Regions from separate parts of the Homo sapiens genome. Here region 2 is linked to region 1. A link means that fine-mapping ties the variant in region 1 to the plasma level of a protein whose gene starts in the linked region. Region 1 holds a variant in brackets. A gene starts in the other region. All regions are shown on their reverse strands.

Region 1 (5,388 bases):
CCAGCCTGAGGGACAGAGTGAGACCCTGTCTCAAACAACAACAACAACAGCAACAACAACAACAACAACAACAACAAGTTAGGAACAGAGGAAATAAAGGCAAATACAGACAGTTAAGAAAATGGTTGGGAGGGCCCATGTAGTTATTTGAGTGAAGCTTCATATCTGGTCCAAGGGACAAATGTGACTTCATCATTTACATACTAGCTTTCCCTAGCATTGAGTTCTAAGAGAAATATTTCAGATGTGGATTGTTATGGACTGAATGTTTGTGCCTCAAATCCAAATTCACATGTTGAAATCCTAACCCCCAATATGATGGTAATATGAAGCAGGGCCTTTGGGAGGTAATCAGGACAAAAGGGTAGAGTTCTCATGAATGGGATTAGTGCCATAAGAAGAGATAACAGAGATTACTGTCACTCTTATCTCTCTGGCCATGCAAGGATACTATGAGAAATTAGCAGCCTATAACCCAGAAGAGGGCCCTCACTAGAACTCAACCATGCTGGCACCCTGTTCTTGAATTCCAGACTCCAGACCTGTGAGAAACAAATTTCTGTTGTGTATAAGCCACCCAGACTATAGTACTTTGTTATAACATGCTGAACTAAGACATGGCTGCTCTATTTTCTTGTTATAACTTACTGGGTGACAGAAGAAAAAACAAACAAACAAAAAACCCATACAACTCCAGAGCTCTTCAAAAGCATAACTCTGTTAGCTTCTAATTTGAATATTACCAAAAGGAAGACTACCTGATGGAGAGCCACGTCTGTGACCCAATAATTCCCATCTTTATCTATACTCAAGCCATGTGGCAAGTAAAACCTGCAAAATAAAAATATTTGTGTTAATTACACATTTACTCTCAAGGCATATGTGACAGAAATTTTTCTAATTAATCTGTAAAGACAATGCAAAGTTATAAATTGATAAATGTATACTTGCATTATTATAGAAAAGAACAAAATGAATAGTTAATAAAAACTGTTATAATGAGATCTCCTTGTGACAAACCTTAGGTAGTATTTAATAGTATTAAAATTTATAAATTAAGCCTACATATAAATTACAAATGTTTATTATAAAGTATGGTATATTAGAGAAAACAGTATCAGTTTAAAAACAGGTTCTGAGGTCATAAGTGTTAACATCTTACAAATATGTATAAAACTGACTTAAGAAACATAAATGGATTGATATAGTTTGCGGTTAAAACATGTTGCAAGGAAATGTAATGTGTTAATATAAACTATTAGACATATAACTCAAAGGCTTTAAAGAGTGCCTATTAAAGACAGTAAAACCCACAGCACATAACCTCCAGCCAACATGGGCTGTGAATATCTAAGCAAAGTGAAATAGTGAGCTAGATAAACATTAGAGAAGGTTAATCTGGCAAATCAATCTTAATGATCTAGGTAAGGAACCTGGACTGAGCTAACAGACACATGGACAATACATTGAGGTGGTTTGGTCCAATGATATCCGACAATCCAATAGCTCTGTTAGCTTCTAATCTTAGTGTAGTGTTGACAATACAGATTTTTTTTCATAAGCCATAACTGTAACACTCTGATTTTGACTAATTAGCTGAACTAGATCCCTGTTTTGACAACTGAATGTGAGGATTATGATTTGCTTTCAAACAGATACTCCACCGATGGCCAAGTTGATTTAGCAGTAGTTTTTCTGCCTTCCCCTTAATTCCTTTCTGGAATGAGGGTGCTTCTGGTGAATAAATAGAGCACCAATGAAACAGGTTCAAACATTTCACCCCTGACACACAATCTTGAGAATGCTGTTAAAAAATTCTAAGCATCATTATTATCATCTCCCAAGCAGCTGCACTCAAAACGGTGGCTATCCACCTTGCGAAGAAGCTAGCTTTCCCTGTGCTTAAGCAGATGGAGAAGGGTATAATTCCTGAAGCTGTCAAGTTACAATGGTTCAGGAGATCTGTAAGCAAGTGCCTCCCTCACTTCTTTCAATGACCATAAATATCAGTCAACTTTTTTTTTTTTTTGGCTGCCAAGTGCCATCTCGAAATAAGACTAAATAATGAGCAGTTTTCAAAGCCAAATTACATACGCATGATAAGGAATGCTAAAAATGACATTTGTTTAGTATTCACTTTGAGACGGAAAAAGAGAAGCTCTTTTACTTAATGGTGATTACTTGATGAGTTTGGTTGTCCTGAAGAATTTTTCTGCTGAAGAATTTTTTTGGATCATTAGATCTGGCTGAGCAGCAACTCACTTAATCAAGTATGTAAGATATATATTACATATGTAATATGTAACAAGCTTGACTACATATTAAAATCACCTGGGAACTTAAGATTATTAGCCCCACTCTATACAGAATCTAAATCTAATTTTTTAAAGGACAAATTGACAAATTTTAATTGTATACATTTATGGGGTACAATGTGATGTTATGACATATGTATACAATGTGGAGAGATTAAATCAAGCTAATGAACATATCCATCACCTCAAATACCTAACATTTTTGAGGTGAGAACATTCCAAATATACTCATTTAGCAATTATGAAATAGGCAAGGACCTGAACAGACAGTTCTCAGAAGAAAACATACAAATGGCAAACAGATAAGTGAATCTAAATATTTTGAAGCTTCCCAGATGATTCTAATATTCAGTCAAGATTTAGAAACACCTATGTAGAAAATGAAAGATGGGATGGCCCAGTTAGTTTTCTGCTTTCTCAAGTGCAGTTATACAAAACACTCGAATTTCAAGACTCTATGATACACTTTATACTCAATATATGTAGTACAAGTCTTAACAACATAAGTCATTTAACTCACAGATTTTTTCCACTGGACTGGAGTACTGCAGCATTATTTGGATCTATGACAAGAATAGTGTCTTCTTCAATTGGTCCGAGTCCTATTTGCTGGTAAACAAACTTGCTGTCAAAC[G/C]AGCTAAACAAAAAGCATTAAATAGGACATGAAACAATCATAAATTCCAATGAAATTGAGAAATGCAGACCATTCACATAAATACAAAATCAAAAGAGCTCAAATGTATTTGACTTCACTCTTTGTCTGCCACATTTCAGTCATTTGGATTATAATATACCCCATTAACCTGTAGAACCATGCTACTCAGGGTGGTCAGTGGAACGGAAGCATTGGCATTGCTGGGAAATGCAGTTTCAGACCTACTGGACCTGAATCTGCATTTTCACAAGACCCTTGGGTGGTTCCTATGCTCACTGGGGTTTGAGAAACATTGATCAAGAACTCTTAATGTACCTGAAAAATTTCAAAAGCTCTTCAAAAGAGTATGCAGTCATTCAATAGACATTTTCTTTCATATTGCAAAAGAAAATATGACTTATTTTAACTTTGTCATTAATTATAATAATAGCTGGAAGAGCAGTGATCAAAATGTTCGTTATTATACTTTAGGTACAACATGCATATACATATTATAGAGATATAAAAGAGGATGTTCAAAGTATTTAAAAGTTACAAAACCGAATCTATCCTCGAGACAAAAATATGCTTAGAGGCATAAAACTTACCAAATAACAGCTATTCTATAACTACAAAATGAACAACTATGCAATAATTAATTAAAAAACTTAAATATGACAATTTCTGCTTTTAAACTCAGTACCTTTTAGATTATTATAAAATATTATGGACATATATTCATATATATATACTTTCAAAATTATATTTCCATTTAAATTGTTAGTAATATAATTTCTTAAATTCACAATTATCACAGACATGGTACTTATTTCATTTTCTGTTTGGGAAGTTATATGTCAACAGGGATGAATGACAAAGATAAGCTCTTCTAATCTAAGCTTCTGTAATATAGAAGTAAATGTATGAAACAACAAGAAACCAAGTTATCTTCTCAAAAAAGGATTGGATCAGTACATAGTTGAGGGGGGTGTGTGTGTATGTGTGTGTGTGGGTGTGTATGTGTGTGTGTTTATAAATATACATATCAAGTCAATAAATGACTTATGAATATTTCTGTAAAACAGAATTGCCTTTATAGCATCAGGCAAGATTGTGAAAAAAGTATTAATATTTTGTAGTGCAACTGGTTAAGCAAAAGAAGAATCTGAATAACATTAAATATTTGCTATTATATATTTGCAATTTGGGAAGGTAACAGACTGCTTGGATCTGTCATGAATCCATTCATCAGTTGGCTGCCATATTTATGGAACTTATGTAGAGTCTCAGTACTCTACATAAATAGGAGAACAAAAAAAAATTCTTAAATTATATTCTTTGGCCATTAAAAAATACACCACACAATTATCTGAGCTACTTGACTGTTACAGTCTTTTGGGTATAGTTTTCCTGAAAGACAACAATAAGTCCCTGAAGTAGTTCTTATTAATGATGCATTCAATTGAACACAAAATATTGATTCAGCTTTGTCAATCTAAAACTTCAGTAATACTCTTTATATATGCTATTATATGCAGTTAAAAACCACACAGTGGTATCTAGAAAAAAATAAATTTATGAAATGGAAGTATCATCATTAACAAAACAGATTTCATAAGATATTTATGGGGTCATTATCAACTGAAATGTGAAATTTTATTAGATAGGAACCAATGTAAGAATACTCATAGTATTATTAAATTATGGGAAAATGGTAAAGGGAAAATATGAAGTCACTCTTGCTAGTATGAAACACCAAATAATTTATCCTATATCTGAAAGTTTATTTTCAATATGAATTTATTTACTAAAAACATCATAACTATTCCTCTGAAAAACATAGGTACTGGATTCAACCATTAATAATCTTTTATTTTTCCAAGGTGACTATAATAATGACTAACAAGTTCAGCACATCTGAGACTCAGTATATTGTAACCTTCACATTCATATGTAATAGGTTAAAGTTTCTTCATTCACTATCTCTTTTTAAGGTTTGATATGGTTTGGCTGTGTCCCCACCCAAATTGTGTGGTGTATTTTTTAATGGCCAAAGAATATAATTTAATAATTTTTTTTTGTTCTCCTATTTATGTAGAGTACTGAGACTTTACATAAGTTCCATAAATTCAAGTCTTATTTTGAATTGTAGTTTCCATAATCCCCACATGTCATGGGAGGGACTTGGTGGAAAGTAATTGAATCATGGGGTGGTTACCCCCTTTCTGCTGTTCTCATGATAGTGAGTTCTCATGAGATCTGATAGTTTTATAAGGAGCTTTTCCCCCTTTTGCTTGGCACTTCTCCTTCTTGCCATCATGTGAAGAAGGACGTGTTTGCTTCCCCTTCTGAAGCAATCTGCCTGATTGTAAGTTTCCTGAGGCTCCTCCAGCCATGCTGAACTGTAAGTCAATTAAACTTCTTTCCTTTATAAATTAC
Region 2 (5,388 bases), not on the chromosome of region 1:
TAAAGTATAAGAGTATTTTGAAAGGTACACTTAAGATCTTCCAAAGGAGATGCCTCCAATTGGGATTGAGAGTTCCTACTGTTTATCGAGCATCTACTATGTGCCAGGCATTACACTGGGAGCTTTGCAGAATACATTTCACCTTAATCCTCTCACTTACCCTGGGAGGATCTAATTATTATTCCACATTTGCAGATGTGGAGACTGGGATTCAAGGCAGTTAATTGCCAAAATGCATACAGCTAGTTAAGTATTCTGGGACTTACTAGCACACAGCTATTGAGTACATAAAGAAAACAGAAAAACTCACTGTCAGATCCTGAGTGAAGATCCTGAGTGTATGAATTTAAAGGAGAGATCCTGGGTGGGGACAGTGAAACCCCAATATTAAGACAATATCAAAAATCTCAGCCTCTAAACAGTGTATAAATCGTTTGAAATTGTAATTTCCAAACAAAGCAAAAGTGGATAATTGGTTTTAGTGTTTCAGGAACAAAATCTATTAGCTTCAATTGCTTTGTCATGTCAAGCAAAAATGGGGCTTGGCTTTTAGCCACATAGTTATCTCGATATCCCATTTATCCTGGGCTGACACTTTGTCATTAGCACGCTCCTGCTATACAATGGCTGGTTCACAGACAGGGAAAAGAGGTTGCATTTTTTCAGCACTTGCTATATACCCACATGTGTGGAGACCCTGTGCTATAGGGAAACCTAGCTGGCAGGTTTTGAAGTGCCAGTCCTGCCTCTGCAGACCAGTTAGGTCTGGCCTGGGCGTGGTATGGAGCCAGGCCCCTTAGCCATTTGCAAGTCTCAGACCCAGGAAGGGAGAGGCTCTGTGCTCCTGGACATTCAGAGGGAGACAGCAGCAGCAGGAAAAGCCAGCTCTGCAGGCAGACAGGTTTAACACTTCCTAGGTGTGCAGGCTTAACACTTCCTAGGTGACATGGGTGGGTACCCTTGGTGGCTGCAAGCTTTGACTGAACAGTTTTGCTCTTCAGAAACTTATTTCCCCTGCATCATGTGAGCTTGTCTGAGTTAGGACATAGGTCCTAGGTCCGTGTTTGTTATCTTCTAGTCCTTCTAAATCAGATATATTTCTATTTAAAAACAATTAGGTTCTCTGCCAACACTTCTCTGTCCAAGAATTTTATCTGATTTTTAAAACCGTTTCATAAGAAAGGAATAGATGTGCTTTGAAAATTTAAAAATATCCCAGTTAGTTGGAGGTGAAATAGGTTGCCTGTTCTGTTCTGAAGTAGGAAGGGGACAGGAAGGGAAGGGGGAAAGGAAGAGAAGTGAATCAGAGGGGAGTGATGCAAAGAAGAGGAGAGTAAAGAGAAGGGGTGGAAAAAAGAGAGCTGGCATCCCTGTGCACCTGCTGTGTGAAATGTGGCACACAGCTTGGGGAAGGTGAATCCTTCACAACAGAAGTGCTGAGTAGAACTCTCAGTAACCATGGAAATGTTCTTCAGTCTGCACTGCCTGATAGGGAAGCCATTAGCCACGCATTTGAAAGGAAGCTGGTGAGGCTAAAGAAATAAGTTTTAATTTTATTTCATTGTAACTAATTTAAATGGAAGCTTGAAGAGCCTCCTATGGCCAGTGGCCTCCACCCTGGGGAAAGCAGCTGTGGACCTGTGAGTCCCACCCCAGCGCGCATGGTGCAAGCGGAGACCCTACCTTCCATGCTGAAGCTCCGCACAATGTTGGACGCTGGCGTAGTCGACTTATCGGACGTGTACCTGTTGTACAGGTCAATCATGTACTGCGGCGGCTCCACCCTGGTTTTGTCCTGCGAAGGGACCCCACTCAGGTTAAGGCTGCGCAGGAAATCCACCTTCACGTTCTCCAGAAACATCTTCAGGTTGAAGGTGTGCTCAGGCAGCCCACCTCCAGGCACCCCCAGTGGGCTGTGGGCGTTTCCCCCAGCAGACCCTCGTCCCCAGCTCTGCAGTGGCTTCCCCTGTAGGGAGCCAGCCAGCAGGGACAGCAGGGGCAGGGCCACCCACAGTGCCCCAGGACACATCTTAGGCCCGCGCAATCACCCAGAGAGGAGACTGCAGGCGGCCGTGCTGTGTTAGCGGGCACGGGGAGGAGCTGGGAAGGAGCGGGCCGGCATCTCCCTGCTGTTTGCTCTGAAGGAACCGTCCTGGCCAGCACCCACTCTCACCCGCTGCCGGGCTGGATTGTCCTCCACTTGTGCTTATCTGGTCCTCGATGCCGCGCTCCGACGTCTTATCTGAGGGAGCCTTCCGTTAATGAAGGCTCTATAAACATCTGACAAACACACAGGGCATGCGGGAAGGACACGGCCTACTGTAAAGAATCTGTGCTTCTCCAGGGGGTTATTGCCCCCTAATTAGGATACTTTCTCATTTCCTTGCCAGGGCTCTTCAGAAGAATCTCCAGGCAGGGTGACATATGCTCCATCTCCTGGGCCACAGGAGTGAAGAATCCAGGAAACAAGACCAAGTAGTCCTCCAAATATAGAAAGGACAGCACAAGATCACAGTGAACCGTGGGGGCTGGGGAGATGGGGAGAGTGTGGGGACCACATCAGGGCTCAGAAGAGGCCTGCTCCTTGCAGAATCGGAACCTGCCAGCAAGCCTCCCTGCTCTGTTGGTGGGATGCACTGCTGAGCATTAGAGATCACGAGTGAATATGGCTCCCGTGCAATTTAGTGCGGTGATGAGTCAAACTAGACACAGGCTGGGATCTCAACTCCCTCACCGATTCCCTGCAAATGTCACCTGGAACAAGTCACTGCAGCTCTTGGAGCCTCCCATTCAGAAGATAGTTATAGGGGTTAAGAGGATGCTGTGCCCCAGGCTGGCTTGGTGGCTGCATTCTGGATGCCCCCTCTCCAGCCCAGGCCTGATTGAGCTGGAGCTGGGGGAGGAAGCCCTGGGTTCCCCCAGCCTGCTCTGTCGGAGCTCCACAACACACTGCAGCCTGTGGGGAGCTCCCCACATCCCTGCATCCCAGCTGTGTCACTGGTCTGTTGTGGGGTGGTCTTAGCTCACACCAACCTGGCAGCCACCTGGCCCACACTCATCAGCAGGGAGAACCACGCAATCTGGTAGACAGGGGAGTAGGTGGGTTGTTCTGAGAGTGGTACATGCCAAGAAGATGATCCCCTGGCCTTTGGAGGCTGATAAGCTGTGGCCCAGGAAAGGGCCCCAGGGACTGCGTTAAGAGCAGTATGTCCACACTTAGACTCTGTCCATTTCCATCACGTGTGGCTTTGAGCAAAGCAAAGAAGGATCATGGTTAGAAACACTCTGGGGTATGCTGTGCCTGGTGGTTTACTCTGGGGAAGGTATTCTATGCTGGTGAGGCTGTCCGGGAGAGGCTGCAGAGAGCTGAGCAGGTTTAGGGGGGTGCAGGAGGGGCCACAGCATGCTGCGGTCAGAGATTGCAGAGGGGGATGGGTGAAATCAGGAGCCCCTGAATGGCTGGGCCTGAATAGAACTTGCTATCTCTGTCCTTTGATGACATGGGCCAGGGGAAGACGGGAAGCGTGCTGCTTCAGAAATGCTGCTTGGGAAGAGGACTGGAAGTGTGCTGGGCTTTGATCCAGCTCAGTGCAAGAATTCCATGGGGCAGAGAAAAGATGAATAAATGGGTGCCATGCCCAAGAAATGGAGCTGCAAATGCGGAGTGAGGTGTGGTCCGGGAGGAGTGAGGACAGGGCAGATGCCTGCAACATGGTCTGGCCAGGAGCTTTTCACACACGAGAGGCTGAGCAGAGGGATAGCCTAGTGGCCTGGATGTGCTCAGGGAGGAGCAAGGGGCTGCTACCTGACGTTATTTTTTAAATGTGACATTTTTTTCCCCTGTTATAACAGTAGTCTATAGTATAGAAAACTTGGGAAATGGAAAACATTAAAGAGAAAATAAATAACCTACAATTTAATCATCCAGTGATGCCCATGGTTAGCATTTTGAGACACATCCAACTCCACAATCCTATATCTGAAACCATTGTGGCCAGGATTGTGTTGAGACTCCGACAGTTTCAGATTTGGGGGATTTTGTATTGTGTATATGCAATAACATTCCCAAAGGGGTCAGAGACAACACCTTATAATGACACACATGAATATTTCTGCAGTGAAACAAATAAAGACACAAATGTCCATTCAGGTCAAGTTTTCCCAGAAAAGGAATTAAAAGAAACTCTAGGTTCTCAGATGGTTCTTTACTTGGAGGTCTCAGATGAAGGACTATGGACCTGACTGTATCCAGGGTCATCACAGCTGCCTGTGGGTGCTGGCCACACAGACTCTGACATGGGTGTCTTTCCCTGGAGCTGTGCAATGCAACATGCCGGTGTATATCTGAAAAGATTTGCCTCACAAACTCAAGATATCAATATGTTCACATCTCTTTCATTGTATTAAATGGATTGCTTGAGGTTTCCTGATCCATATTATCAGGAAGTCTAGTCTTCTCCTTTTCTGAATTGTCCAAGTGCTCCATGGGTAAATTAAGTCCAAAGGAGATAGGGTATGAAGGTGTTAGTCCAGCTTCTTCATGCTGGGAAGCGGGAGGGAGAGAGGGGTCCCACCTGCTGTTGCTTCTCAACAACACTGGCTTTGCTGTTGGGCACTGGTCCTACATGTCTAAACGGCTGCTTGTTCTTAGCTGCTGGAATGTCCTCTAGCCCAGGTCTGTGGGGTGGCCCCCATGAGGCAATAAGGTAACAGTGTTCTTAGACGTGTGCCGGGCTTACCCACCTCCAGCATGCGTGTCTCTGTGGCCAGTGGCTGGGTGAAGGTAAGAGGCCAGTTATGGTTAAACACCGATTCCAACCAGCCCTTTCTCAAATCTGTAGGCTCTTACGGGGGGCCTAGGTCACCAGCGGGACTCCCACTTTCATCAGGTGGTGATTTCAGGGACCTGGTTACCTTTTCATACAAATGGACCCTGGTCCATCTGAGAAAATCCCCCTAACTCTGGGTCTTAGGGAACAAGTCTCAAACTTGCTCTGATTTTCCCAGGAGGAAACAGACCCTGGATGTTCCCTCCTGCAGAAGGACCCCTCCCTCTGCTATCACCAGCTTTGCATTGTTGGGGCCTCAGGAAGGAGCTGCCTCACTTGAACCACAGAAGGTCTTATTTATCTCTCCTTTCCCCCCTCTTCCTCCAAATTGTGTACTTTCTAATTCTTCACCGACTTCCCAGGGAAGTCAGTCCACATGATTATTCAAAGACTAACGATCTGAATTATGGTAGTCTTATGTGTCTATACCTAAATAAAGCAAAGACTGGCATAAAATTTAAGAAAATCTACACCAAAGTGTCTTCAGTCTCTGCCTTAGGTTTACTTTCGAAGCCACTTGAGGTATACATGGTTTGATATATACAGGCTTGCTTCTCTT

Direction of the effects. Alleles are on the strand shown, and positions count from the first base shown. The strength of an association depends on the size of the effect and on how common the allele is.
As copies of G replace C in region 1, the plasma level of the protein whose gene starts at base 2,244 in region 2 goes up (weak association).

What was found. PIP is the posterior inclusion probability: the model's chance that the variant is causal. Protein levels are from antibody-based Olink assays in UK Biobank. Linkage for the fine-mapping came from a reference panel and not from the study's own genotypes, which makes the PIPs less certain.
Region 2: it holds the start of GDF2, and the variant in region 1 is fine-mapped to the plasma level of the GDF2 protein (UK Biobank, PIP above 0.99).

What each region holds. Positions count from the first base shown.
Region 1 is chr5:103,000,597-103,005,984 of GRCh38, reverse strand. PAM (peptidylglycine alpha-amidating monooxygenase) reads right to left here. Exons shown (of 26, transcript NM_001177306.2): 17 at 2,836-2,952; 18 at 759-831. Among named protein-coding and RNA genes, the nearest start is that of GIN1, 120 kb to the left of the region's middle. The variant G/C (reference allele first, on the strand shown) is at 2,950.
Region 2 is chr10:47,319,310-47,324,697 of GRCh38, reverse strand. GDF2 (growth differentiation factor 2) reads right to left here and starts at 2,244. Exons shown (of 2, transcript NM_016204.4): 1 at 1,684-2,244. The coding sequence starts at 2,029.